Regions from separate parts of the Homo sapiens genome. Here regions 1, 2, 4 and 5 are each linked to region 3. Evidence: fine-mapped expression QTL. A gene starts in region 3. Each other region holds a variant in brackets. All regions are shown on one strand. Distances are from middle to middle.

The links.
Region 1: its variant is fine-mapped to the expression of B4GALNT4 in testis (GTEx, PIP 0.97).
Region 2: its variant is fine-mapped to the expression of B4GALNT4 in whole blood (INTERVAL, PIP above 0.99).
Region 4: its variant is fine-mapped to the expression of B4GALNT4 in whole blood (TOPMed, PIP above 0.99).
Region 5: its variant is fine-mapped to the expression of B4GALNT4 in whole blood (TOPMed, PIP above 0.99).

Annotation. Positions count from the first base shown.
Region 1 is chr11:387,488-393,595 of GRCh38, forward strand. It overlaps a transcript of PKP3 not described here. Among named protein-coding and RNA genes, the nearest start is that of PKP3, 3.7 kb to the right of the region's middle. The variant C/T (reference allele first, on the strand shown) is at 3,562.
Region 2 is chr11:437,381-442,318 of GRCh38, forward strand. It overlaps ANO9 (anoctamin 9), which reads right to left and starts at 4,631. Exons shown (of 23, transcript NM_001012302.3): 1 at 4,541-4,631. The coding sequence starts at 4,546. LOC105376506 (a long non-coding RNA gene) reads left to right here. Exons shown (of 5, transcript XR_007062542.1): 3 at 1-1,371; 4 at 2,519-2,600; 5 at 3,105-3,293. It also overlaps the pseudogene RN7SL838P. RefSeq lists silencers at 4,405-4,484, 4,529-4,823 and an enhancer at 4,655-4,924. The variant C/T (reference allele first, on the strand shown) is at 3,221.
Region 3 is chr11:366,167-372,274 of GRCh38, forward strand. B4GALNT4 (beta-1,4-N-acetyl-galactosaminyltransferase 4) reads left to right here and starts at 3,333. Exons shown (of 20, transcript NM_178537.5): 1 at 3,333-3,788; 2 at 5,943-6,046. The coding sequence starts at 3,638. RefSeq lists an enhancer at 1,866-2,404.
Region 4 is chr11:395,329-401,398 of GRCh38, forward strand. It overlaps PKP3 (plakophilin 3), which reads left to right. Exons shown (of 13, transcript NM_007183.4): 2 at 1,280-1,359; 3 at 1,486-2,117; 4 at 2,211-2,334; 5 at 3,664-3,868; 6 at 4,639-4,813; 7 at 5,006-5,123; 8 at 5,207-5,377. Among named protein-coding and RNA genes, the nearest start is that of PKP3, 4.2 kb to the left of the region's middle. RefSeq lists an enhancer at 1,055-1,584. The variant C/G (reference allele first, on the strand shown) is at 3,907.
Region 5 is chr11:402,027-406,419 of GRCh38, forward strand. PKP3 (plakophilin 3) reads left to right here. Exons shown (of 13, transcript NM_007183.4): 9 at 1,052-1,237; 10 at 1,592-1,745; 11 at 1,917-2,109; 12 at 2,210-2,297; 13 at 2,508-2,882. The coding sequence ends at 2,543. It overlaps SIGIRR (single Ig and TIR domain containing), which reads right to left. Exons shown (of 10, transcript NM_001135054.2): 9 at 4,323-4,393; 10 at 3,690-4,033. The coding sequence ends at 3,870. Among named protein-coding and RNA genes, the nearest start is that of PKP3, 10 kb to the left of the region's middle. RefSeq lists an enhancer at 3,496-4,189. The variant C/T (reference allele first, on the strand shown) is at 2,291.

The sequences.
Region 1 (6,108 bases), 21 kb after region 3:
ACTTGGTGCCAAGCACCTTGAGACCCAGAAAAGAAGCATGGTCTCAGGAAGGAAGCTTTTCTGTAAACGTGAGACCCAGAAGAGAAGCATGGTCTCAGGAAGGAAGCTTTTCTGTAAGTGTAAGACACAGAAGGGAAGCATGGTCTTGGGAGGAAGCTTTTCTGTAAATGTGAGGGCCAGTGATCCCAGGCCTCGTGTGTGCAGGCTTTCTTTGCCTTGCAGGGTAACTTGGACCTTTGCCTCTACTGTAGGATTGATCCAGCCCTCCTGGTGGCCATCTCAGGAGAGGCTGCAAGAGGCAATCCCAGGGAAATAGAGAAGCAAACCCCAGAGGCACCTCCAGTGGAGGAATCAAACCCTTCACTCCTCCCTACTCAGGTTCTCTCTCAAGCTTTCCCCAGCCTAGAAATCCTCATTTTAGGCCATTCTGAGTCAAATTAAGGGGGATCTTGGCAAGTTTTCAGATGGCCCTGACAGATACATGGAGGCTTTCCAGAACTTAACCCAAGTATTTGAGCTCTCCTGGAAGGATATCATGTTACTTCTGAATCAAACCCTGACTGCTGAAAAGCAGGCCACCCCGCAAGCGGCAGAGAATTTGGGGGATGAGCTGTATATCTTATATAGGGCCAGGGAAGAAGAGAAGCTTTATCCAATTGGATGAATAGCAGTACCATTGGAGGACCCTAAATGGGACCCCAGTGATAAAATGGGAGAATGGAGGATGAAACACTTTCAGATGTGATACTGGAGGGCTTGTGAGGGAATGGGACTGGGCTTCTCATTGCACTTGGCTGGAGGGCTTATGAGAGAAAGGGGCTGGGCCTCTTGATTGCACCAGGCTGTCCATGGTAGAGCAGGGATTGGCCCCACTGCCTTCCTGGGGGATGGCAGGGGCCTTGGTGAAGTGTGCCTCTCTGTCTCCTGACTCAGTCAATGAACGGCTGGTCCTAGGGGATGAGGAGATGAGTTCATTGCACAGGCGGCCCCTGATGTCAGAAGGAGGATGCGGGAATGGGCTGTGGGACCAGATGGTACTTTGGGGGCATCCTGGGAGGGGCCACCTCAGTTTTTTCCAGTGGGAACCGGGAGGAAGTCCAGAAAAGAGAGAGGAGATATAGGAAGAAGGCAAAGGCTCTTAACAGCTGCCCTGTGGGCTCATGGACCCCAGGATCCCTAGATACACCTGTGACTGCTGCAAATGTGTTGGGCTAGGGCCCCACAGGAGGGTTTCCAGACAGTGCAGGGAGGAGGGTCCTTCATGAGGGTTTCCACACAGTGCAGGGAGGAGGGTCCTTCAGGAGGGTTTCCACACAGTGCAGGGAGGAGGGTCCTTCAGGAGGGTTTCCACACAGTGCAGGGAGGAGGGTCCTTCAGGAGGCTTTCCAGACAGTCCTGGGAGGAGGGTCCTTCAGGAGGGGCTTTCCAGACAGTGCAGGGAGGAGGGTCCTTCAGGAGGGGCTTTCCAGACAGTGCAGGGAGGCCACCTTGACCCTGTCCAGTTTGCCTTGGGGACTGTAGGGTCCAGCCCTACGGGGCTTAGTGGGTGTTCTCCCCATGTGCGGAGACCAGAGATTGTAATAAATAAAGGCACAAGACAAAGAGATAAAGAGAAAGCAGCTGGGCCTGGGGGACCACTACCATCAAGACGCGGAGACCAGTAGTGCCCTGAACGGCTGGGCGCGCTGATATTTATTGCATACAAGACAAGGGGGCAGGATAAGGAGGGTGAATCTTCTAAGTGATAAGGTGAAGCAAGTCACCTTACGGTGACCCTTCCCTCTTAGGTAGCCGAAGTAGAGAGGAAAGGCAGCATACATCAGTGTTGTCTTCTATGCAGTTATAAGAACGATCAAAGACTTTAAGACTTTCACTATTTCTTCTACCGCTATCTACTACGAACTTCAAAGAGGAACCAGGAGTACGGGAGGAGCATGAAAGTGGACAAGGAGTGTGATCATTCAAGCACCACAGGGAGGGGGTTAGGCCTCCGGATGACTGCGGGCCAGGCCTGGAGAATATCCAGCCTCCCACAAGAAGCTGGTGGAGCAGAGTGTTCCCCGACCTCTCCAAGGAAAGGAGACTCCCTTTCGCGGTCGGCTAAGGAACGGGTGCCTTCCCAGGCACTCGCGTTACCGCTTGACCAAGGAGCCCTCAAGCGGCCCTTATGTTGGCGTGACAGAGGGCTCACCTCTTGCCTTCTAGGTCACTTCTCACAACGTCCCTTCAGCACCTGACCCTATACCCACCGCTTATTCCTAGGTTATATAGTAATGGAACAAAGAGTAATATTAAAAGCTAATGACTAATAATGTTTATAATAATGATTGATAATTGTCCATGAGCATCTCTATATCTAATTTGTATTATGACTATTCTTATTCTATTTTCTTTATTATACTGAAACAGTTTGTGCCTTCAGTCTCTTGCCTGGGCACCTGGGTCATCCTCCGCCCACAGGGGACCGCTGGAGGACAGACCATCCCTGGAGACGTGGGTTGCCGGACCTCGGGCCAGTCTCCCAAATGGTACAGCAGGACTGATGGGTCCCCAGCCTCCTCTCCCCAGCTACAGTCGTCCAGACCACCATTGCCATCCAGGAACCCCAGGGATTGTAGGGGTCAAGGGAAGGAGGATGGACCTCGTCCTGGACTCCAGAGTTCTCCTCTCCAATCTGGGCCCCCCTCCCCATCTCTTGGCACAACTGTGAGTGGCATCTCAGGCCTCCTTCCTCCACCATGTCAGGAATCAACACAGTCTTGTGAATACAGGGACCTCTCCATGGAGGGGTTAGCTTTTTTCCTTTCAGAAGGCACCTTCTTAGGCCAGGCCCCCGATTCCCAGGACTTCCCTCCTCCGCCTTGTTTGAGGAGGACCTGGCCCCACAGCGCCACCTGTTTATAACAGGAAAGCAACAGGAGCGGCCGCCACCTGTTAGCAGCTGCAATTTGGTGAGGAACACTTGGGGCTAACTGAATGGGTCCACACACCGTCCTGAGGCCAGACCCCAGGAGAACCCCCGGGAGATGCCCCGCCTGCCTCAGACAGACGCCCCCTTCCCCAGAGGAGCGCCGGGGTCCTGAGGCCAGACCCCAGGAGAACCCCCGGGAGATGCCCCGCCTGCCTCAGACAGACGCCCCCTTCCCCAGAGGAGCGCCGGGGTCCTGAGGCCAGACCCCAGGAGAACCCCCGGGAGATGCCCCGCCTGCCTCAGACAGACGCCCCCTTCCCCAGAGGAGCGCCGGGGTCCTGAGGCCAGACCCCAGGAGAACCCCCGGGAGATGCCCCGCCTGCCTCAGACAGACGCCCCCTTCCCCAGAGGAGCGCCGGGGTCCTGAGGCCAGACCCCAGGAGAACCCCCGGGAGATGCCCCGCCTGCCTCAGACAGACGCCCCCTTCCCCAGAGGAGCGCCGGGGTCCTGAGGCCAGACCCCAGGAGAACCCCCGGGAGATGCCCCGCCTGCCTCAGACAGACGCCCCCTTCCCCAGAGGAGCGCCGGGGGCATAGCAAGAGCCCGGGACTCGTCTGATGAACGAACAAGTAGTGGACGGACAGATGGA[C/T]AGACTGACCAACAGGCCGGCAGTGGACGGGGTGTGTGCAGATGAAAGGTGTCCCCCCCAAGAGCCTACAGGGGCCATACCCCTCAGCTACTTTCCATGCCAAGGACCAAGGCCAGAGACCTCAGAGCTGCCCCAGCCACAGGCGCGGGGCAGGGGCCACACTCCACAAGGTGAGGGGTGGTGCCCATGGGCAGCCGGGCAGGCTCCGTGGAGGGGCTGGACTTGGCTGGAGCCCAAGTCAGAAGGTTTGCAAGCGTGGGCGCCAACAGGAAGCGCCAGGACGCTTGCCTCTGGGTGAGCTGTGCCCCCACGCCGGGTCCATCAACCACCAAGGGGCTCCCCTAATGCACTCCGAACCCCGCCCCTGCAGGCGGTGGGACCTGAGGCAGCCTCCCAAGCCTCTCTGTGCACCGGCTCACTCCTGAATTCGGCTTTGACTATATTTTGCTTCCAACGTCCTCACACCTTTCTCCCCAGATCCTCCCCCTTCTGCTCCTTAAGACGACCACCCCAACCCCCTCCACCCACGCAGGCTCTGCCCTGGAGGTTTGTCTTCTGTGCCCTCCCACAACTCCGGGCACGCACCTGGCAGCTCTGCCCACGACCTGGGCCCAGCCGACCTTCTCTGTGAGCGCCTCCCGTGCCCCCCACGCTGAGCCCACCATGCCCCGAAGCCCTCCTGCGCCCTCTCCCACCGCCTCTTGGGAGGTGACTGACAGGCCACACCCCACCCAGGACCCATCTAAGAGCAGCGCTCACTCACCCTTCGAGGCCCTCAGGTTCCAGGCTCTCAACCTGATTGTGCACCCAAGCGGCCCGAGGCTCCGTGCAGATTCCGGGCCCCACAGACAACCGCTTCCTCCAGGAAGCCTACCGTCAAGCCCCCCTCCAGGGCTCCTGTGTCAGGAGCTGGCTCCAGGGAGAGTGCGACCCTCAGGGCTGGTCACAGGGATCAGATGAGACTCCGCCGAGCCTGGAGCTGGAAGCTGCAGCGGTGGCCTAGCAGGCATCGCCATCCGTCTGGCCCGGCCGCAGTGAGGGAAGGTGCACCCCAGATTCCTGGCTTTGCCAAAACTGTGCCTGGCGGGCACCACGCATCCTCAGGGAGGCGCCGCAGCTCTGGGGGGGGGCACCCACAGCCCTCTCTGCCAAGGGGAGGAGGGAAGGTGGGCAGAGTCGGCCCTGGGGGCCCTGCAGGCCGCGGGGTACCGGCGTTCCCATCATAGCTCCAGCCGCACGGAAGCCCCTTCACTGAGTCCTCTTGTGAGCCCTTCGGCCTGACTGGGCTGCAGAGGCCCTCCAGGCTGGCTTCCCCCTCATGCCGCCCAGCCTGGCCCCTGCAGGGCCCCAGGTGGGCCTGGGGTGGACCTGGGTGCAGGGCGGGACCCAGCCCATGCCAGGCACATACCTCCAGGCCCGCTCTGCGCCGCACAAACTTGTCTCCCAGGATTTTTCCACACGAAACCTGTCTCCCAGGGAATCAGCCAGTCCGATGAGCTGGGCGTTCCCACCCCGCCCTCCGAGGCCCCCACAGTCCTGTCCCCGCCGCAGAGGCTGCCCCGCACGCGCCGGGCCAGGGATGGAGTCCTGGACACCTCGGCCGTCAGCAGTGGCCTCTGGGATGAGCTGGGAGGCTGGCGGGATCCGGACCACGAGCCGGGTAGGTCTCCCACCCCTTCCCCACCACCCCGACCCCACCTGGTGGCCCCAGCCCGGGCCTCACCCATCCTTTCAGTGGACCTTCCCCTCCCCCTTTAACCCCCCACGCTGACCTCCGACTCCTACTCTCCAGCTTCCTCCCCTCAGAACTGACCTCACCCTTAATGCTGCCTCCTAACCCTGACCCGGCCCTCACGCCAGACCCCTGCCCCAGCCCCATTAAGGCAAAAATCTTCCAGGGACGGAGCTAGGGGGCAAGGGTCTGCCCTGGAGGAGAGCCCAGAGCCAGGGTCCAGGGTCCAGGGAGAAGCAGAGGCTGTCCGATGAGCTCGTGAGAGAAGCCCAGAGGTTGTCATAGATGTTCAGCTCCCACCCCCAGCCCTCCTAGGCTTATCCCCACCCCCATCTACCAGGGGCTTGTCCCAGAGGCTAGAGGGCCTCAGAGCCCATTTGCTGGCTGTGGTGCTAGAAGGAGACCTTCTGGGCACAAGCCCTGCTTGGTCCAGGGCCCCCCCACCAGGGGCCCCCCACTACCCCACCCCCACCAGGGGCCCCCCACCCTCGCTCCCTCTCCATCCAGGCCTCTGCTCTTCCAGACCCCTGGTTCTTCCCTGCACACCCGCTCCTGCCCCAGCCTGACATGCGCTGACAGGAGTGCAGGCCCTCTGAGTCAACCCCCTGGGGCGGCCCCGCCCCCCTGCACCCTGACTCATGTGCTGGGAACGGCCTCCCACCCCAGGGCCTGGGGTGCAGGAGCAGTGGTGCCAGGGTCCCAGAAGCCAGAGAGGGTTTTGGAGGCCTCTGTAGGGGGTGAGGGGGTCCTGGGGGTGAGTTCCAGGGTCTGCAGGCTTCGGGGGAGGGCCGGTCCATCCACATGCTTCCTGGTGC
Region 2 (4,938 bases), 71 kb after region 3:
GCCACACTGCAGCCTCCCTGCGGGGGGAAGTTCTTGCCCTAGTTGGCCCACGGGGCTCACCTGGCCCTTCTGTCCTATCCTAGACCAGTAGTTCTTCCTGCCTCAATCAACCCTTCCTCTGACTCCCTCCTTGGCCTTCCCGACAGCCCACGGACAGATACCTGCACTCAGGCGTGGCCTGCCACACTGAAACTTCTCCCCCGTCCTGGGTTAGAGGAGAAACCTTCATCCTCCGACAGATATGCAGGAAGGGGCGTGGCACCTGCCCAGGCAGGAGAGGCACCTCTGTCTCAGCGCAGAGGGCAGCCTCCCTGGGGGGGACTGGTGGTCTGGGGGACGTGGGCATCACGGCTCCAGCTCTGCAGCTTGCCTCCGTAGGGGCCCGGGAAGTGTTGTGTTGGAGGGATTCATGGGAGAATGGCCCCTCACATGCCTGGCTTCAGACCCAGGATGAGGGTCCCTCCTCTGCCCAGAACCCCAGCTCCTCTGGCAGAGGCTGAAATTAGAGACCCCCTCACATCAGCCTGGGCCGAAAGTTGAAAGCCGGCAGGATAAGCCCAGACCCCTGAGAAGGAAGGGACGAGGCAGGGACCCCAGACCAGGCAGGACTTTCGGAGAAGCCTGGGAGAGGGGACTGTCCCTGGGGAACATTCTCAAAGGTGGGGGTGGGAAGCCATCGTTCACCCCAGAAATGAGGCACAGAAACCCCCTCCCCACCAAAGACACCGTGCAGCACTGGGGTGATGACCCCACGCCTCTGCAAACAGCAGGATCAGCCTCCCCTGGGGAATGGGGTGCAAAGCCCCCATCACTGACGTGGGCTGACAGGGAGCCCTCCCCCCAGGGCAGAGCTACACGCACACCTGGGGCGTGCCAGCCCCTGGCTGCCCTTAGCTGCTCCCTCGGACAAGGCAGAAGCACTAGGGCTGCCAGGTGTAGCCCCCGCCGACACACACAGCCAGACAGGTGGAGTCCCCCCAACACACACAGCCAGACAGGTGTAGCCCCCCCCCGACTCACACAGCCAGATAGGTGTAGCCCCCCTGACACACACAGCCAGACAGGTGTAGCCACCCCCTGACACACACAGCCAGGCAGGTGTAGCCCCCCCAACACACACAGCCAGACAGGCCTCAGGCTCCGAGACTCTGCTGCAGAACACTGGGCCCACCAGCCTCCAGGACCGGGCCGTCCATCTGTCCATCCGTCTCCAGGGCCAGTGTTTACGGAGCCACACCCACCGGCCCATCCCCCGGGCCACAGCCACCAGCCTACAGGACCAGGCCATCCATCTGTCCATCCGTCTCCAGGGCCAGTGTTTACGGACCACGGGAGCCTGGCTTCTCCACACCACCCTCGGGGTCTTCACAGGTGAGGGCTGGACCACCTGAAGTCACCTCCACTTCCAGCCATGCAGACTGTTCGGTTTATCCACAGTGAGATGTCTGGGACCCCCATGTCCCCAGTCCATGGGCCCCACCTCCGGGAAACTATGTATGGGCCCACAGGCTTCCAGCTCCCAGGGTAGGGACAGGGGCTGTCCCTACACACTCAGTCTGAGGGCCTCTGAAGCTTCAGCCAGCCTTGCCATCTGCAAACCCAGAGAGGGAGGCCGGCTCTGGGTGGACAGCCGGCCAGGCCCTAGCTCTGACGCCACCGAAACACCCCAGGCCTCAGTTTCCTCGTCTGTACAACAGGGTGTCCTCACCCCAGCCCCCAGGTCACCTCAGCGACGTGCAGACACAGGAAGAAGGTGGACAGAACCACACACTGTTCTCCCCCATCCTTCCTGTCCCACAGCCCTCACAGGTGACACACCCAGTACTCCAGGGCCCCAGGGAGTTTGTGGGGGGCTCTTGGCACCCCCATTGTGGGCATAGGCCAGCGTCCAGTGGGCAAGCCCCTGGTTCCCAGTGAGGAAGCTTCTGGAGACACTGTAGCCTGCAGGAGACCCTCCCTCCCAAGGGCTGGAGTGTGAGGACAGAGCTGGGGGTCCTGCCCATCCATCCTCTTCCCAGTCCAGCCTCCAGGTTGGGGGCAGGCAGAGGAGATGGTTGTGCAGATATGACCCCACCCTACTCCTGAGAGGCCTGGCCAGGGGGTCCCATGACGCACATCCCCCCAGCTGTGCATGAGAAGGAGCAGGCCTGGCCAGGGGGTCCCACGACGCACATCCCCCCAGCTGTGCATGGGAAGGTGTTTGGGCCTCATCTCCTCCTGAGGTCACGTCAAGCCTCTTGGCCGGTGCCCTGAGCCCTCTGGGATCTGGCCCTTGAGAACTTTACAGTTTCGTCATCCACAGAGGGTCCCCTTCTGCCCCACCGCAGTCCCAAGCATGGAGAGGCCCACCTTGTGAGCCACAGCGTCTCGCCTCTGCCCAGCCCACGCATCCTCTGAGCAAACCCTCCCCAGCTGGCTCTGCGCTCCTGAAGCCAGTCTTCTGCCCACCCCCCGGCCCCTCCAGCTGTCCAGTCTGTCATCTGTCAGTTCACCCATCCGTGTGCCCGTCCATCCCCAGACACTGACGGAGCGACCTGCGTGCAGCCCTCCCAGGCAGTGCGTGGCGTTCGTGGACGCAGGGGCGGGGGCCTACTTGGCAGGTGAGGAGGCATGGAGCTTGGCATTGTAGGGCAAGAGGTTGGCAAAAGGTGAGAAAATGGGGGCAGCATTCCCGGGAGAAAGAACATGTGTGGGCACGCCCTGAGAATCAGGGTGCAGTTGGTGTCTGGGACTCAGCAGTCAGCACCTCCCAGGGACTCAGCACTCAGCACCTCCAAGGAGGACTTGGTAGCTACTACTCCTGGTGACTCAGCACTCGGCACCTACGGAAACTGAGTCCAGGGACTCAGTCCTTGGTACTTCAGCTTTGCAGAAGCATAAAGGGCAAGAAGGGAGCTGCCAGAAGGGGAGGCTGGAGGTTGGCAGAGGCCAATCAGGGGAGGCTGCTAGGCTTCTTGGCCAAATGGAGAGCTTGGACTTCAGCAGGGGGCAGTGGGGAGCCATGGAAGGGGTTAGAGCAGAGGAAAGGCACGCCCAGATCCAGCCTGGAGCTGGGACTAGCAAGTCCTCCCCATGTCTGCAACTGTCCTTTTTGATCACCACAGGAGTTTTGACCTGCTCCGTTTCCGACCTGGACCGGTTCACCCCTCCTTAGGCAACTTGGTGGTCCCCTGCTCCTGGGAGGTCACCATACTGATGTGCGGACAGCCAGTCAGCCTAA[C/T]ACACTACAGCCCAGAACTCCCAGGCTCGAGCAACCCTCCTGCCTCAGCCTCCGGAGTAGCTGGGACCGCAGGCTCATGCCACCACGCCCGGGTTCCAGCAGTCCTCCTGCCTCAGCCTCCCGAGTAGCTGGGAGCGCAGGCACGCGCCACCACGCCCGGGTTCGAGCAGTCCTCCTGCCTCAGCCTCCTGAGTAGCTGAGACTGCAGGTGCATGCCACGACGCCCGGGTTCAAGCAATCCTCTTGCCTCAGCTTCCGGAGTAGCCGGGACCACAGGCATGCGCCACCAGGCCCGGCTGCAACTGTCTTTTTTGAAGGACTGATGCTCTCACTTCCAACAAACCAGGTGCTGCTTCTCCCAACCCAACCCCTGGCCAGCCCCAAGTCTCTCCTCTAACCCCCAGCATGGGAGGAAGGGGCTGGCAGAGGGGACCCTGAGCTCAGGCTAAGGGGCATCAGGTGCTGGGCTGAGCAGCCAGGGTGTCAGACCTGGATGTGGAGGGCCGAGGAGAGCCCTGGGCGGAGATGGAGCAAGAGGCCGCCGGCGCAGCCCACACGTGGAGGCCCTGGCAGGCCGAGAGGGAGGCTGGTTTCACTCCACACCTCACCACTGCCTCCTCCCTGGGCCGACCAGGTGCTGACCTGCCCAGGTGTTGGCCCTGGCCCCAGGTGACCTCTTCACTGGCAGAGGGGAGAAAGGATGTCTTTCTACGTGTTCACCTGCACTCCCTCCCCCAGAATCGGAATCCAGCAGCAGCAGTCAGCGCCCACCCCCAGAATCGGAATCCAGCAGCAGCAGTCGGCCCCCACCTGTGCTGGGCGGGGTCCTTGGGGAGCAGAGAGCCCACAGCCCGCCGGCCACTCTGCAGCTCCCAACCCTGGGGCAGCCTGCCTGGTGCCCACAGCCCGCTCCCCCTTAGGGGCCAGCTGCAAGGCAAAGCTGCCAGGTCTGGGGTCCTCAGCAGCAGCCCCCGCCTCGGTGGGCAGGCCCTCTCCATCTCGTGTTCAGGACTCTGGTAGAGGTTCCTGGCCCCACACACTAGCTGAGAGCCCAGCCCTGGTGCCCTCAGAATCCCGGGCTGGAGGGAGGAACGCCGCCCGCCTCCAGCACTTCCAACCCCCAGCGTGCCCCAGGAGTCCAGGAGGCAGCTTAGCTGAGCCGGGCGGTCACCCTCGCCTGACCGGGCAGCCTGCAGGGACCCCCCCCACACACACAGGCGCCTTCCAGGTGGGGCTGGCGGGGGGCTGGGGCCGGGGGCCCCAGGTGTGGGCGTGGCTGGGGGCCTTGAAGGTGTGGACCCTTTTGAGCGCAGGACTCACCTGCATGCTGGCTGTGGCCGGAGTTCCAGCTGGGGTTTGGCGGCCAGGAGAGTGGCTGCCAGCGGCGGGTGCTCCTACCTGACTTCCGCGTGGGGCTCGCCCCTCCCTCCTCCTCCTCCAGCGTCCTGCAGCTGCCGCGCCTGGGTGTAGTCGGGGCGGAGCCAGCATCCAGGCCAGGAGAGTACCCCAGCCCCTGGAGCCTGGGACACCTTCCTGGAGCCCAGATGGCGGGTCAGGGGCCAGAGGGGAATTCCTAGGCTGGAGTTCCCGGGAAGGGGGTTTCCACTGTGAGATGGGTCTCATGACACCTGGTCCTAGGGGGAAGCAGGATGGCACAGAGCCCCTGACAGAGCCAGCACCAACGCCCCCACTTGCCTTGCCTCTCTCACCCCCGCTCA
Region 3 (6,108 bases):
CTAAGGGGGAGAAATTTGGGAGGCAGGAGATCGTCTGTAATATCACGTAGCTCCTCTAAGCCTTGCAGAAAACACCACTGGAAAACCAGAACCACCCCATAAGGCAAAACTGCTAACAGCATAGGCCTTTTGGGAAGGAACGTTTGGGTCACCCCACCAGACAGTGAACCACGACCAGCAGAGGTGCTTGCAGAGGGCAAAGGGACCACGCAGGAGTGACGGAAGAGCGTGGCCATAAAGACTGTACCAGCCACGACCTGGTGACCGTAGAAGTGAGTACTTCTTATCCTCACACAAGTCACACTTGTACTGACATTATCCGTTCTTCCTGCTTTTTTCCTCTTCCATTGCCCTCCTAGCTGCATAAAATGCGTTAACAACAGTTAACTTTACATTTCATCTCAGTATTTGTGTCATCCAACCCCCAACATGCACTTTGCAGTGTCAAGTGTTAAACGCTCTTAGAGAAACTAGAAGAACGAGGATCGTCTTCTCAAATGTGGATAACATGACACGAACCTTTTGTTCAGTCCCTTCTGGTTGGAATATTTGCATCATGTTACGTAGAAGCATGACTTTGTTTTTTGCTTTATTTGGAAGTTAAATGTGTTTTTTAAAAGAAGTGTGCGTCTGTGCTGAGTTGTCAAGAGGAGGAACCTGCCAGGTTGTTCTCTCTTTTTTTTTTTTGAGACCGAGTCTCGCTCTGTCACCCAGGCTGGAGTGCAGTGGCGCGATCTCGGCTCACTGCAAGCTCCGCCTCCCGGGTTCACGCCATTCTCCTGCCTCAGCCTCCGAGTAGCTGGGACTACAGGCGCCCGCCGCCACGCCCGGCTAATTTTTTGTATTTTCAGTACAGACAGGGTTTCACCGTGTTAGCCAGGATGGTCTCGATCTCCTGACCTCGTGATCCGCCCGCCTCGGCCTCCCAAAGTGCTGGGATTACAGGCGTGAGCCACCGCGCCCGGCCAGGTTGTTCTCTTATTCTAAGCTGGAGACCCATTTCCCAGAACCTTCTCCTCTGTGGCTGGGTCACACCGAAGTGAGGCGGTGGCCGTTCTTCTCCAGAAGGGGCCGAGACGGATGTGGTAGCATATGGAGCATCTGCGTCCGGCAGATCCCAGCTCGCCCCTCAATTGTACCTACTATGCTTTGGATCCACAGGGGACACCCTCTGACTGTGGACCCATGAAGTGTCCCAAACACGTCTCTCCCGACATTGCCAACACTTGCCTTCTAAGAACCTGTTTACGGGTCAGGCCAGCCGTTGCCTCCCCAGAGAGCGACCCTGGAGCGGGAGCCGGCCTCCCTCCATCACCCAGCTCATCTCCTTCACGTCACTCACCACCAGCAAAGCGACTATGCGTTCACTGGTCTGTCCCTGCCTAGTAACATGTAAACTCCATGAAAGGAGGGCCCTTTTCTGTCTTGCTCACTGCTGTGTCCCCTAAGTCCCTGGCTCGTCAGGACACTAGAATACTAGGTAGCGTCCACTGGCTGGATGAATGTGCCTAGGATGGGGTGCCATGCAGTGGAAAGAGGGAAAGCATTAGACGCACAGCCAGACAGATGCACATAGAAAATATGGGACTTGGAGAAACAGAATGAGACACATAAAAGAGCACCACTGGCCGGGCACAGTGGCTCACGCCTGGAATCCCAGCACTTTGGGAGGCCAAGGCGGGAGGATCACTTGAGCCCAGGAGTTCAACGCCAGCCCGGGACACATGGTGAGACCCTGAATCTGTTAAAAAAAAAAATACAAAAAATTAGTCCGGCATGGTGATGCATGCCTGTAGTCCCAGCTCCTCAAGAACCTGAAGTGGGAGGATCGCTTGAGCCCAGGAGGTCAAGGCTGCTGTGAGCTGAGATTGCACCACTGCACTCTAGCCTCAGAGACACAGTGAGACCCTGTCTCAAAAAGGGGTGGGGCACTATATTTTAATGAATATGCAGATAACAGAAATATGAAAAGTGGACTGCAGGAGGCAGGAGATGAGGAGCTGATGGGGTGGGGGAAGGTTTGAGAGACCGGGTGTTGTTTAAGGGCCGGTATGAACAGCAGGATGTAACCAGCTTGCTTCTGTGCTCAGAAGTTAGGGGAGGAGGATGGAGGGGAAGGAGGGAAGGAGTTGAGGTCTTAAGAAGGCAACTTCTGGGCAATCTTCCATTGTGAGGTGGGGTCCACGTCCCCACAACCCACGAACTTGGGTGGCCGTGCGGCATGTGGCAAACCTGAGGGGTGACTCCAAGATGCTTCACTCTGTGTGCTGGACCGGGAGGCTGCCCCTGGCAGCTGAGCCTGCAGGCGCTCTGGCCAACCACCCGGGGTGAGCCCAGCCATTCCTGCCGAGGGTGCACTGGCTTGGGGCAGAAGTCTCTGGATGGCTCCAGCCTGTCCCGCGGAGCCGGCCCCACCACTCACGTCTTCCCACCGGAGGCCAGCACCTCGAGGAGCAGAGAGGAGCTGTCCCCGAGTGCCCTGAGTTCCTGACCCACAGGACACAGGAACACAGGAACGCTGCTGTTGGACAGCACTGAAGCTGGGCGGTTTGCTACACACCCAGAGACAGCTGAGCAGACAGAGGGAGAAGAGTAGGGTCACGCTGGCAGCTGGACAAGGGAAGTACTGGGGGGACAGAGGGACTGGCAGGGGTTGGTGCAGACCAGGTGAGAAAGGGCACGAAGTGGGACAAGGTCCCGGTGAGAGGCACGACACTGTCACCTGCCTCAGGCCGCGCTCGGTGGGGCGGGGGCCACCAGCTGAGGCCCCTCCTGCCGCCCAGACAGCTCGGCCCCCTGCGGCCCCAGCCCTGCAGGCTGAGATCCCGCAACGACTCCCACCCCTGGGCTGAAGCCGGTGCTTGGGCCCCCCCGCCCCCCGGCCTCTCTCGCCCGCCCCCATTCCCCGCCCCCCAGGACCCCGGGTCCCTCCCCTCCCTCCTCCGTGTTGTCCGCCTGCAGTCCTTCGGGTCACTGTTCTCGGGAGGCCGCCCCGCCCCACAGTCAGGCTGTGCCCATCCCCCGCCGCCCCCCACGGTCCCCGAGCCCCAGCGCTTCCCAGCCCCGCGTCTGTGTGCCGCGCCCCCGCGCTCCGTGGCCCAGGTGGACGCGCGCCCCGCGCCCCGCATCCCTGTCCGTCCCGCACCCCTCACCCCCCGCCCCGCACCCTCCGCACCCCCCGCCCCGCCCCGCCTCCCCTCGCCCCGCCTCCTCCGCCCCGCACCCCGCGCCCCGCCCCGCCTTCCCGCGCCCCGCACCCCTCCCCGCGCGCCGCCATTGGCTCCCCGCGGCCTGGCTCGGTCCGATTGGTTCCGCGCGCGCGGCCGGGGCCCGATCCGCGGTGGCAGCCGTGGATGCTGTTCGGTCCCGCCGCCGCCCCAGGAGCGCGGAGCCGGGAGCGGCCGGGCGGGGGGCACCGCGAGGAGCCGCCCCCGCCGCCCACCCCGGGCCCGCGGCCGAGGGCGGCCTGGGGGGGTCGCGGCCGCACCCGGTGGCCGCGCACGGCGGACAAAGGACCATGCGGGGCCGCGGGCGCTGAGCGCGGCGGGGCGGGCCGGGGATGCGGCGCGGGGCGGGCGGGGGCCGGGGGCTGCAGCGGCGCCGCTGAGCGCGGCCTGGGGCGGGCGCGGCGGCCGCGATGCCGCGGCTCCCGGTGAAGAAGATCCGTAAGCAGATGAAGCTGCTGCTGCTGCTGCTGCTGCTGAGCTGCGCCGCGTGGCTCACCTACGTGCACCTGGGCCTGGTGCGCCAGGGACGCGCGCTGCGCCAGCGCCTGGGCTACGGGCGAGGTACGGCGCGGGGGGCGCGGGGGGCGCGGGGGGCGGGGGCGGCGCGGGGGGCGCGGGGGGCGCGGGCGGCGCGGGGGGCGCGGGCGGCGCGGGCGGCGGGGGCCCCGGGGCGCGGGCCGGGCCTCCCACCGCACAGAGGTCTCGGCTGGGCCCGACCCTCCCGGAGACCCCGCCCGCTGTTCTCCGCTCTGCGATTTGGGGGGAGGGGGCGCGGTTCGGCTCGGCCCGGACGCTCGATGACGTCGGCAGTGACGCGCGCGACCCTCCCAGAGAGGGTCCCTGACTCTGGGATCTGGCTTGGATCCGGTAGTGAGGGGCTGACGGTGGGCTCCTGGGGAAGTCTCTGCCCCTAGACCCTGCTGAGGCTTCCAAGAGGCCTTCTCAGGCCTCGCCTCCACCCCCTGCCCGCTTAGCAGGGCCTCAGTTTCCCTGTGTGCTGGGGACCCGGGCCGGGGCTTGCTGAAGTGGCCGGTGCAGCTGGGACGCTTCCCGGCGGGGGCGCCTTCGGTGAACTGTGCCAGTGTTGTGGGGGTCCATGCGTAGGGATGGGGCCCAGCTTGGGGAGCCTGGCGTAAACTCTCCCAACCCCAACCCACAAACAAAGCAGATGGGGTCACGGTGAGCCAGCCGGGGTAGGGCCTCCTGGAGATGGTGATCTTTGACATACACCTTTGGGGGAAAGAGCATTCCAGACAGGAAGGCGCAGATGAAAGCCTGGCGGTGGGGTTGGGGGAGAAGGTGGGGCAGAATGCCCCCTCTGGAGGAGGGAGGTTAGTGCCATGCCCAGACCAGGAGAGACCCCAGCTGGCTGCCTCTGAGCCTTTTCCAGGGAGCCAGGTGTCCTGAGGGGGCAGAACAATGATACTGGCTGGGGACTCCTGGGCCACTCCACCTGCCAAAGCCCCTGTGTTCTCTTCCTGTACCGGGACGCCTGGACCCACACAGGCCAAGGGTCTGGGGCTTGTCCCAACCCACATACCTCACAGCTTCCACACCCTCAAGAGACCCCCGATACTGCTGAATCCCTAAAAAGCCCCACCCCAGCTATCAGCAGACAGGGCAGGATCCACAGCTGGCCCAGTGACACAGAACAAAACCAGCCCCCTCTGCAGGCTCCTCTGTGGTTTTCTGAGCAGCGCAGGGGTCTAAGCCCAACCAGGAGGGGGCGGAGGCATAGGGACCCCTCTTCCAAGGACCCCTTGAGGCTAAGCCAGCTCCGCCCCAGGGCACCTGTACACTTGCTACCTCTGAGGCTAGGGCCAGGACCAGAGGAGCCCAACAGCTGCCCAGGGAGAGGGCGAGTGAGCAGACTGTTCTGTCGGGGGACCTGGGGCCCAAGTCAGGGGAGCCCTGGGGGACCCTTCCCAGATCTGCCTGTGGACATCTCTACTGCCTCCCCACAAGCCTGGGCAGGCCAGCTCTGCACCCCAGCCCTCTCCACTTCCTGGACCTCCCTAAGCTGAGGACCTAGACATCCCCACTGCAGCCCCAGGGGGTTCCACGCCCTGGGATCTGAGCATCTGTAGGGATGCTTCTCTTCACCCCAATTCTGCCCCTCCTGGTCCTCCTACCCAAGGACACTCAATCCAGGGCCACCCTCTGCTCCAGGGCCATGCCTGGGCGTCAGCATCCATGCCTGTTCCTCAGTCCAGACTTTGAGAGCTCAAATCCTTCAGGAGAGACTACAGTCCCTGGCACTAACCCTGAGTTCTCAGTTCTGGTAAGGGAGGCAGACGTGGAACACTCCAGCACACAGAGAAAGTGCTGAGGGCACAGGGCAGTCCTGGGGTCTTCCTGGAGGCAGAGCCACTCAACAAGAATGGCCAGATGGAGGTGCATGTGGGTGCCTACACACGCCAGCTGGCCCACCCGGCTTTCCTCCCTCACACCTGCTGGAGGTTGGGAAGAGCCTGCTGGAAGGCTCAGCCTGGGCTGCCCCACCAGAGGTGGGGTGTAGAAGAAGTTGCCTTGCTGGGGGGAGGGGCATCTGGTGGCAGAGGAAGCAGATGAGAAGGAGAGGCTTTAGTGAGAGACACCACAGCCTGCCTGCCCTGCTCTGGCCATGTGGGTCCCTGGCCCAGCTGAACCCAGCAGCAGGCAGAATGGCCTTGGAGAGAGCCTGGGCCCGAGACAGGCCTCATGTGCCACCTGCAGATGGTGAGAAGCTGACCAGTGAGACCGACGGCCGGGGGGTCCACGCTGCGCCATCCACACAGAGGGCTGAGGACTCCAGTGAGAGCCGTGAAGAGGAGCAAGCGGTGAGCAGAGCCCTGGGGAGAACACGTGTGCACGGAGACGAGACCCCGAAGCCACTTGTGTG
Region 4 (6,070 bases), 29 kb after region 3:
TGTTTAGAGGGGCCTTCCCCAGGACTGGCCTCCAGCCACTGGCCAGGGGGAAGTGAAGGTCGCCCAGCGGAGGGGCCGGCCCGGCGGCCTGGACTGTGGGGTCCTCCCTCCAGGGGCCTCAGCCTTGCTGGTGACCAAGTCGGGTGCCCAGGGGTCATGGGGTGGAGGACGGTGAGGGAAGGGTTAATTACCACCCTGGCTGCCCTGCCAATTAGAGGGAGGTGGATTATAATTGGGGGGTGGGGGTGAGGTCCCCAGGCTGGGGCGTGCCCCCACTCCGGGCTGGGCCTCACGAGCGTCAGAGGGTTAATAGCCCCGGCCCAGAAGCCCCATTAACCAGGGTGAACCTGGGGCCTCTGCCATGGGGGTGTCCCCCACAGAGCATCCAGCTCTGGGCAGAGTTGTGGGAGGGCCACGGCCCCTTTCCCTGCACCCCACCCTGAGCCCCTCAGCCAGGTCGCTCTGGTGGGCCTTCTCATGCCCCCACCATCAGCCCATCCTCTCTGCACCCATCCACGAGTCCATCCCTCTGCCCACTCACCATCCAACCATGGGACCCTGTCGTCGACGGCTGTCCCACCCCTCCATCCACCACTCTGTCCATCCTTCCAGCAGTCACAGCAGCCCTCCCATCCTCCTCCTGCCTGTCCCTCCATCCACCCTCCGCCCTCCACCCTCTGCCCACCCACCTGTCTGTCCACTCACTGTGGAGTCGGGCTGACGCAGCTGCCCTTGGCGTGTGTGTGGCTGGACGGGGTGGGTGTGGCCCCTGCCTCAGGCTCTGCCGGGTGGGACAGGGCACTGCAACAGGGCATACTGGTCCAGGGAGACAGTGTCACTCTCCTGTGACCGGGCACAGATGAGGTTTGGGCACAGGAGGGGCTCAAAAGGAGTCAGTGTGGGCCGGGGCAGGCCAGGCTGGCTTCCTGGAGGAGGCTGGGCACTGTACCATGGCAAGGATTGGAGAACTGATGTCAGAGGCCCTGGCACATTCCTCCTGGCGACCAGGAGGTCAGTGGGTGAGCGTATCTGCCCTCTCGGGTAGAGGAGGCACAGCTGGGGGGTGGGCTGTGGAAGATGGACCACCAGGGCTGACATGTGAGGAGACCAAGCCATGGCAGGAATGGGGAGGCACTGGCCCTGGTGCCCCCCTGGCCTCCCTGCCCTGGATTGGAGGCTGCTCCTAGGGTTGCCAATAGCGATGGAGTGGTGGAGAGGAGGCAGGAGGCCAGTGCTTTGCTGTGTGGCAGAGCTGGGCTACCACCGTCCCTCTCCACAGGCACATCCAGGGGGCAGTACCACACCCTGCAGGCTGGCTTCAGCTCTCGCTCTCAGGGCCTGAGTGGGGACAAGACCTCGGTGAGCGATGGGCCCAGCCCGAGGGGGACGATCTGAGCTCTGCAGTCTGGAGAGTGGGAGGCTCTGCAGCGGGCCCGGACACAGGTGAGCCCAGGCACGCCCTCACCGCCCCCTCTCGACCCACAGGGCTTCCGGCCCATCGCCAAGCCGGCCTACAGCCCAGCCTCCTGGTCCTCCCGCTCCGCCGTGGATCTGAGCTGCAGTCGGAGGCTGAGTTCAGCCCACAACGGGGGCAGCGCCTTTGGGGCCGCTGGGTACGGGGGTGCCCAGCCCACCCCTCCCATGCCCACCAGGCCCGTGTCCTTCCATGAGCGCGGTGGGGTTGGGAGCCGGGCCGACTATGACACACTCTCCCTGCGCTCGCTGCGGCTGGGGCCCGGGGGCCTGGACGACCGCTACAGCCTGGTGTCTGAGCAGCTGGAGCCCGCGGCCACCTCCACCTACAGGGCCTTTGCGTACGAGCGCCAGGCCAGCTCCAGCTCCAGCCGGGCAGGGGGGCTGGACTGGCCCGAGGCCACTGAGGTTTCCCCGAGCCGGACCATCCGTGCCCCTGCCGTGCGGACCCTGCAGCGATTCCAGAGCAGCCACCGGAGCCGCGGGGTAGGCGGGGCAGTGCCGGGGGCCGTCCTGGAGCCAGTGGCTCGAGCGCCATCTGTGCGCAGCCTCAGCCTCAGCCTGGCTGACTCGGGCCACCTGCCGGACGTGCATGGGTTCAACAGCTACGGTAGCCACCGAACCCTGCAGAGACTCAGCAGCGGGTGAGCGGCTGGGCCCGGCTCAGGGAGGGGGCTTCTACCACGGGCCCAGCCTGAACCCAAAGTTAGCCTGACCCCTGACCCCTGGCTCCGCAGTTTTGATGACATTGACCTGCCCTCAGCAGTCAAGTACCTCATGGCTTCAGACCCCAACCTGCAGGTGCTGGGAGCGGCCTACATCCAGCACAAGTGCTACAGCGATGCAGCCGCCAAGAAGCAGGTGACCACCCCGACCACCCACTCGCTGCCCCCTGGTGACCTCCTTCGTGGGCCCCACCACCTCCCACTGTCCTCTGCTCACTGAGCACCCCTCATGATCCCCAAGCTGACTGGGTAGACCCCACTCTGTCTGGAGCCCCCTCAGCAGAGGAAGAGCAGAAGGATACAATTTGGATACACCAGTATCACCTGCATCACCTCCGTACCCCCACATATACCTCATCACCTCCGTACACCCGCACACACCTGCGTCACCTCCGTACCCCCACATATACCTCATCACCTCCATACCCCCGCACACACCTCCGTCACCTCCGTACCCCCGCACACACCTGCATCACCTCCATACCCCCACACACACCTGCGTCACCTCCGTACCCCCGCACACACCTGCGTCACCTCCGTACCCCCGCACACACCTCCGTCACCTCCGTACCCCCGCACACACCTGTGTCACCTCCCTACCCCCACATATACCTCATCACCTCCGTACACCCGCACATACCTGCGTCACCTCCCTACCCCCACATATACCTCATCACCTCCGTACCCCCGCACACACCTGCGTCACCTCCCTACCCCCACATATACCTCATCACCTCCGTACACCCGCACACACCTGCGTCACCTCCCTACCCCCGCACACACCTGCGTCACCTCCGTACCCCTGCACACACCTCCGTCACCTCCGTACCCCCGCACACACCTGCGTCACCTCCCTACCCCCGCACACACCTGCGTCACCTCCGTACCCCCGCACACACCTGCGTCACCTCCCTACCCCCGCACACACCTGCGTCACCTCCGTACCCCCGCACACACCTCTGTCACCTCCCTACCCCCGCACACACCTGCATCACCTCCGTACCCCCGCACACACCTGCGTCACCTCCGTACCCCCGCACACACCTGCGTCACCTCCCTACCCCCGCACACACCTGCGTCACCTCCCTACCCCCGCACACACCTGCGTCACCTCCCTACCCCCGCACACACCTGCGTCACCTCCCTACCCCCGCACACACCTGCGTCACCTCCGTACCCCCGCACACACCTGCGTCACCTCCCTACCCCCGCACACACCTGCGTCACCTCCGTACCCCCGCACACACCTCCGTCACCTCCGTACCCCCGCACACACCTGCGTCACCTCCGTACCCCCGCACACACCTCCGTCACCTCCCTACCGCCGCACACACCTCCGTCACCTCCCTATACGGCTGCATCCCCTGCATATCTACATCTACGCACCTGGACACAGCTGCACACAGGTGCATAGTCTGCATCCATCCACATGCGTCTGTGCACCCCCATATGCCTGTGCCCGCAGGCCCGCAGCCTTCAGGCCGTGCCTAGGCTGGTGAAGCTCTTCAACCACGCCAACCAGGAAGTGCAGCGCCATGCCACAGGTGCCATGCGCAACCTCATCTACGACAACGCTGACAACAAGCTGGCCCTGGTGGAGGAGAACGGGATCTTCGAGCTGCTGCGGACACTGCGGGAGCAGGATGATGAGCTTCGCAAAAATGTCACAGGTGCTGCCTGTCCCCTCCTCCACCTGTCCTTCCTCCAC[C/G]TGCGCCCCTCTGCCTATCCCCCCTGCCTTCCTCCCCACCTGCCCCCCTCCACCTGCCCACCATCTGCCCCCCTTCTCCACCTGCCCCCTCTGCCACCTGCCCCCCTACTCCTCCTCCCCCCCTCTGCCTTACCCCCCCACCTGCCCGCCATCTGCCCCACTCCTCCACCTGCCCCCTCCTCCACCTGCCCCCTCTGCCTGTCCCCTACTCCTCCTGTCCTCCCTCTGTGTCCCCCCCACCTGGCCCCCCTCCTCCACCTGCCCCCTCTGCCTATCCCCCACCTGTCCCCCCCTCCACCTGTCCCCCTTTTCTGCCTGTCCCCCTCCTCCTGTCCCTCCTCTGCCTGTCCTCTCTCCTCCGTTCTGACCCCTCCACCTCATTCGGTTCCCCTCCGTCCCTTTGTACCTTTTGCCGGCCGTGTTTCTACTTGGGCCTCCACTGCCCGCCTCTTTCCTGGACCCCCGGCCACCCTGTCCTGTGGTTTTGTCTCCTTGGAGCCGCCTGCACTGCCAGGCCTGCTCACCACCCCACCCCCACATCTTGTCCCCTCTTGCTTGGTCCCAGCTCTATCACCTCAAATGCCACCCCAGGGTCTCCCCAGTGGGGCTCGTGGGTGAGGCACAGAACACCAGGCCAGCCCCTGGGGAGAGGCGGGACCTCTTCACACCATCCCCAGAAACGCGGAGGGGGTTGGAGGGCAGACGCTGATAGCAGCCTCCCCCGTCCTCCAGGGATCCTGTGGAACCTTTCATCCAGCGACCACCTGAAGGACCGCCTGGCCAGAGACACGCTGGAGCAGCTCACAGACCTGGTGTTGAGCCCCCTGTCGGGGGCTGGGGGTCCCCCCCTCATCCAGCAGAACGCCTCGGAGGCAGAGATCTTCTACAACGCCACCGGCTTCCTCAGGTGCGCCAGCCTCGGGCAGCGGGGTGGGGATTGCAGGCGCGGGTCACTGTGGGGACTCCGCCTGGCCTGGCGTTCGCAGCCCACACACCGCACGCCTCGCGCTGGGGATGGGCGTGCGAGGGCCCACGATGGGTTGGGGCAAGGCCCGGGATGCGGGGTCCCTGGGGGGCTCTGATCCACCTCGGTCCCCAGGAACCTCAGCTCAGCCTCTCAGGCCACTCGCCAGAAGATGCGGGAGTGCCACGGGCTGGTGGACGCCCTGGTCACCTCTATCAACCACGCCCTGGACGCGGGCAAATGCGAGGACAAGGTGAGGGGCGCGGTGTGGAGGAGGGGCCGTGCCCCCGGGCCGCCGCTCTGACCCGCGCCCCTGCCCCGCGCCCCCGCCCGCAGAGCGTGGAGAACGCGGTGTGCGTCCTGCGGAACCTGTCCTACCGCCTCTACGACGAGATGCCGCCGTCCGCGCTGCAGCGGCTGGAGGGTCGCGGCCGCAGGGACCTGGCGGGGGCGCCGCCGGGAGAGGTCGTGGGCTGCTTCACGCCGCAGAGCCGGCGGCTGCGCGAGGTGGGCACCAGCCTGAGCGGGGCGTGGGGTGGGTGCTGCGACCCCGGCCCCGCTGACCCCGGCCCCGCTCACCCCCGCCCCGCTCACCCCCGCCCCGCTCACCCCGCCCCGCTCACCCCGGACCCCGCTCACCCCCGCCCCGCTCACCCCCGACCCCGCTCACACCCGCCCCGCTCACCCCCGCCCCGCTCACCCCCGCCCCGCTCACCCCGGACCCCGCTCACCCCCGCCCCGCTCACCCCCGGCCCCGCTCACACCCGCCCCGCTCACCCCCGCCCCGCTCACCCCGGACCCCGCTCACCCCGGACCCCGCTCACACCCGCCCCGCTCACACCCGGCCCCGCTCACCCCCGCCCCGCTCACCCCCGGCCCGCTCACACCCGGCCCCGCTCACACCCGGCCCCGCTCACACCCGCCCCGCTCACCCCCGGCCCCGCTCACACCTGCCCCGCTCACACCCGGCCCCGCTCACACCCGGCCCCGCTCACACCCGGCCCGCTCACACCCGCCCCGCTCACCCCCGGCCCCGCTCACACCCGGCCCCGTTCACACCCGCCCCGCTCACACCCGCCCCGCTCACCCCCGGCCCGCTCACACCCGCCCCGCTCACCCCCGGCCCGCTCACACCCGGCCCCGCTCACACCCGGCCCCGCTCACACCCGCCCCGCTCACCCCCGGCCCCGCTCACACCCG
Region 5 (4,393 bases), 35 kb after region 3:
CCCCGCTCACCCCCGACCCCCGGCCCCGCTCACCCCCGGCTCCACTGACCCCGGCCCCGCTCACCCCGGACCCCGCTCACCCCCGACCCCCGGCCCCGCTCACCCCCGGCTCCACTGACCCCGGCCCCGCTCACCCCGACCCCGCTCACCCCAGACCCCCGGCCCCGCTCACCCCCGGCTCCACTGACCCCGGCCCCGCTCACCCCGGACCCCGCTCACCCCCGACCCCCGGCCCCGCTCACCCCCGGCTCCACTGACCCCGGCCCCGCTCACCCCGGACCCCGCTCACCCCCGACCCCCGGCCCCGCTCACCCCCGACCCCCGGCCCCGCTCACCCCCGGCTCCACTGACCCCGGCCCCGCTCACCCCGGACCCCGCTCACCCCCGACCCCCGGCCCCGCTCACCCCCGGCTCCACTGACCCCGGCCCCGCTCACCCCGGACCCCGCTCACCCCCGACCCCCGGCCCCGCTCACCCCCGGCTCCACTGACCCCGGCCCCGCTCACCCCGACCCCGCTCACCCCCGACCCCCGGCCCCGCTCACCCCCGGCCCCGCTCACCCCGACCCCGCTCACCCCCGACCCCCGGCCCCGCTCACCCCCGACCCGCTCACCCCGACCCCGCTCACCCCCGACCCCCGGCCCCGCTCACCCCCGACCCGCTCACCCCGACCCCGCTCACCCCCGCCCCGCTCACCCCTGCCCCGCTCACCCCGGGCCCCGCTCACCCCCGGCCCCGCTCACCCCGACCCCGCTCACCCCCGACCCCCGGCCCCGCTCACCCCCGGCCCCGCTCACCCCCGCCCCGCTCACCCCCGCCCCGCTCACCCCGGGACCCGCTCACCCCGACCCCGCTCACCCCGGACCCCGCTCACCCCCGCCCCGCTCACCCCGGACCCCGCTCACCCCCGACCCCCGGCCCCGCTCACCCCCGCCCCGCTCACCCCGGACCCCGCTCACCCCCGCCCCACTCACACCCGACCCGCTCACCCCGACCCGCTCACCCCGACCCGCTCACCCCGACCCCGCCGACTCCTCCCCGCCCTGCGCAGCTGCCCCTCGCCGCCGATGCGCTCACCTTCGCGGAGGTGTCCAAGGACCCCAAGGGCCTCGAGTGGCTGTGGAGCCCCCAGATCGTGGGGCTGTACAACCGGCTGCTGCAGCGCTGCGAGCTCAACCGGCACACGACGGAGGCGGCCGCCGGGGCGCTGCAGAACATCACGGCAGGCGACCGCAGGGTGGGGCACCCAACCCAGACCCGAGGGGGTCCCAGGGGTTCATGCGGTTGAGGGGGGGACAGAGGAGGGAGAGGGAGGGGAGGAGGAAGGGGACGCCCAGGGTCCGCGGAGCCTCGGAGGTCAGCGTCCCGGTGGCGCAGGCCTTGGGCCTTGGGAGGATGGAAGTCCTGCCCTGGGTTTGAAGGGAGGCACCTGATCCGGGCTGCGGCTGATTCCCCCCGGCTGGGGGGCAAAGGCAGAAGCAGAGGCCCCCCTGAGGGTGGCGAGAGGATGCAGCGACCCCATTGTGGCAGGACCCCCTCAGGTGAGGGTCTGAGGCCTCCGGGTCACGGCTCACACCCTCCCTCCCCACAGTGGGCGGGGGTGCTGAGCCGCCTGGCCCTGGAGCAGGAGCGTATTCTGAACCCCCTGCTAGACCGTGTCAGGACCGCCGACCACCACCAGCTGCGCTCACTGACTGGCCTCATCCGAAACCTGTCTCGGAACGCTAGGAACAAGGACGAGATGTGTGAGTCGGGCAGCCCCTCGTCCCTGCCCTGCTGGACCCACATGTCAATTTTGTCTTTAAGTGTGGGCTTCAGACCACTGGGGCCAGTCCAGCTCCCTGGGGGAGGCAGGGGACCCCAGGTGCCCAGGTGGCCAGGAGTAGGGGTGCAGACTGACCCCCGGCCTCCCACAGCCACGAAGGTGGTGAGCCACCTGATCGAGAAGCTGCCGGGCAGCGTGGGTGAGAAGTCGCCCCCAGCCGAGGTGCTGGTCAACATCATAGCTGTGCTCAACAACCTGGTGGTGGCCAGCCCCATCGCTGCCCGAGACCTGCTGTATTTTGACGGACTCCGAAAGCTCATCTTCATCAAGAAGAAGCGGGACAGGTAGGGGCCGACCCAGCCGTGCAGCAGCCTGGTCAGGGGTCCTCCCAGTCCACCCTGCTTTCTGGCTGTGTGTCCCCTCCTGACTGCCCTCCACCCTCAGCCCCGACAGTGAGAAGTCCTCCCGGGCAGCATCCAGCCTCCTGGCCAACCTGTGGCAGTACAACAAGCTCCACCGTGACTT[C/T]CGGGCGGTACGTTTCCCGAGCCCAGGGCAAGCAGGGACCCGGGTGCAGGGCATGGGACGCCGGGGGAGGGTCAGTGAAGAGGCCCATGGGAGGATGGAGACCAGGGACCCAGAGAGGAAGGGTCCGGGCCACACCCAGCACACTGCAGGAGGGACAGCGGGCAGAGGGCCACATGGGCAGACATGCACCCTGACCTTGGGCCTCTCTCCACTGTAGAAGGGCTATCGGAAGGAGGACTTCCTGGGCCCATAGGTGAAGCCTTCTGGAGGAGAAGGTGACGTGGCCCAGCGTCCAAGGGACAGACTCAGCTCCAGGCTGCTTGGCAGCCCAGCCTGGAGGAGAAGGCTAATGACGGAGGGGCCCCTCGCTGGGGCCCCTGTGTGCATCTTTGAGGGTCCTGGGCCACCAGGAGGGGCAGGGTCTTATAGCTGGGGACTTGGCTTCCGCAGGGCAGGGGGTGGGGCAGGGCTCAAGGCTGCTCTGGTGTATGGGGTGGTGACCCAGTCACATTGGCAGAGGTGGGGGTTGGCTGTGGCCTGGCAGTATCTTGGGATAGCCAGCACTGGGAATAAAGATGGCCATGAACAGTCACTGCCCTGTGTCCTTCCATGGCTGGCCCGACCCTGTGGCTGGCAGCATGATCCTGGGACTCAAGGTGTCCCCAGGCACCCCCTGCCCCTGAGGACACCCACCCCCTGGGCTCACACACAAGCCTCCCAAGATCAGAGGACATAGGACATGGAGAGCCCAGCAGAGGGACAGCTGGCACCTCAGGGCCGAGAGGGGACAGGGTGGACAGCGGGTGCACCACAGGCACAGACGGAGCAGAGCTGGGGGCCTCGAGAGTAGAGGGGTGACTGGAGTAGGAACAGGGTGGCTGCCTCGTGGGCTACACTCATGCGGCAAATGAACCCAACTCCTCCGCCGCCCACCCTGGGCCTGGAGTTGCCTGGACCAGGGGCTCTCACACTGGCTGCCTGAGGTTTGGGGTCCAGTGGGCTCTCGGACACCCCCATCCATCTCACCCAGAGCCAGGCCATTTAGTTGTGAAGTTACTGTGGATATTCTTAAAACAGAAAGTTTCTGTGAAGCTCAGAACTTGAGGTCTCTAAGGAGCCTGCCCCCATCCAGGATCTGCCTGCATGGGAAGGGTCTAGGAAGAGTCACGTCCCCAACCAGGGACCAGGCAAGGAGGCCCAAGGAGGCTACTGTAAGCACGGGACACGCCTGAGCTGGCTTAGGAAGGGGGATGGAGAGAGGGCAGATTTGGTGATTTGGCGGGTGGGGATGAGAGAGGGAGGGGTGGGGATGAGAGAGGAGGGGTGGAAGGCTGAGAGAGCCGCAGAGGGAAGCCGAATCCGAAACCTTCCGCCGCAAGGGAGGAGACCGAGGCCCCAGCAGAATCCAAAAGGACTTTATTTTCTGGCACTGGGAGGCGCCCTGAGGCCACAGCCTTTTCCCAGGGCTGCTGGCAGGGTCCCAGGGCTGCTGGCAGGGGTTGTGGTCCTGTTGAGCAGAGGAGCGACGCCGCTGCCCTGGCCCCCGCTGTCCCTATGATCCTGCACTCTGGGGTGGGAGCTACATATCATCCTTGGACACCAGGCAGTAGAAGTCTGTGCGGGCACTGTAGTTTCGCGAGCCGAGATCCGAGACGTCCACTTCGCTGCTCCGGCTCTCTCCCAGCGAGACCCCACTGGTGTGCGGTGGAGCTGATGGCTCTCCAAAGACAGGCCCCCGGACACCTGGGGTGGGGAGACCGAGACGCCTGAGGTGGCCACCCACAGCCTTGGCCCAGACCCACTGCCAGGGGCTGCCCCTGCTCACCCCCTGCTGTGATGGCCTGTGAGGCCCAGGAAGTTCCCAGGCAGACCGAGGGCCGAGCACCTCCAGGGCAGAGGCCGTGCAGGGGCTCCCGGTGCCGGGAAGAGTCCTCAACACCTGGAGCCCCTCCAGGCCCTGTGCCCTGTGCCTGCCCCCACTCCGCCCTGTGCTGAGCTTCTCCAGTTGGGGAGTGGGGCTGGGCGGGCATACCCAGGTCGCCCTCAGGGTCCGGGTCCACCTCTGAGTCCAGGGCCCGGCCCTCAGGGACTCGGCCTCGAAGA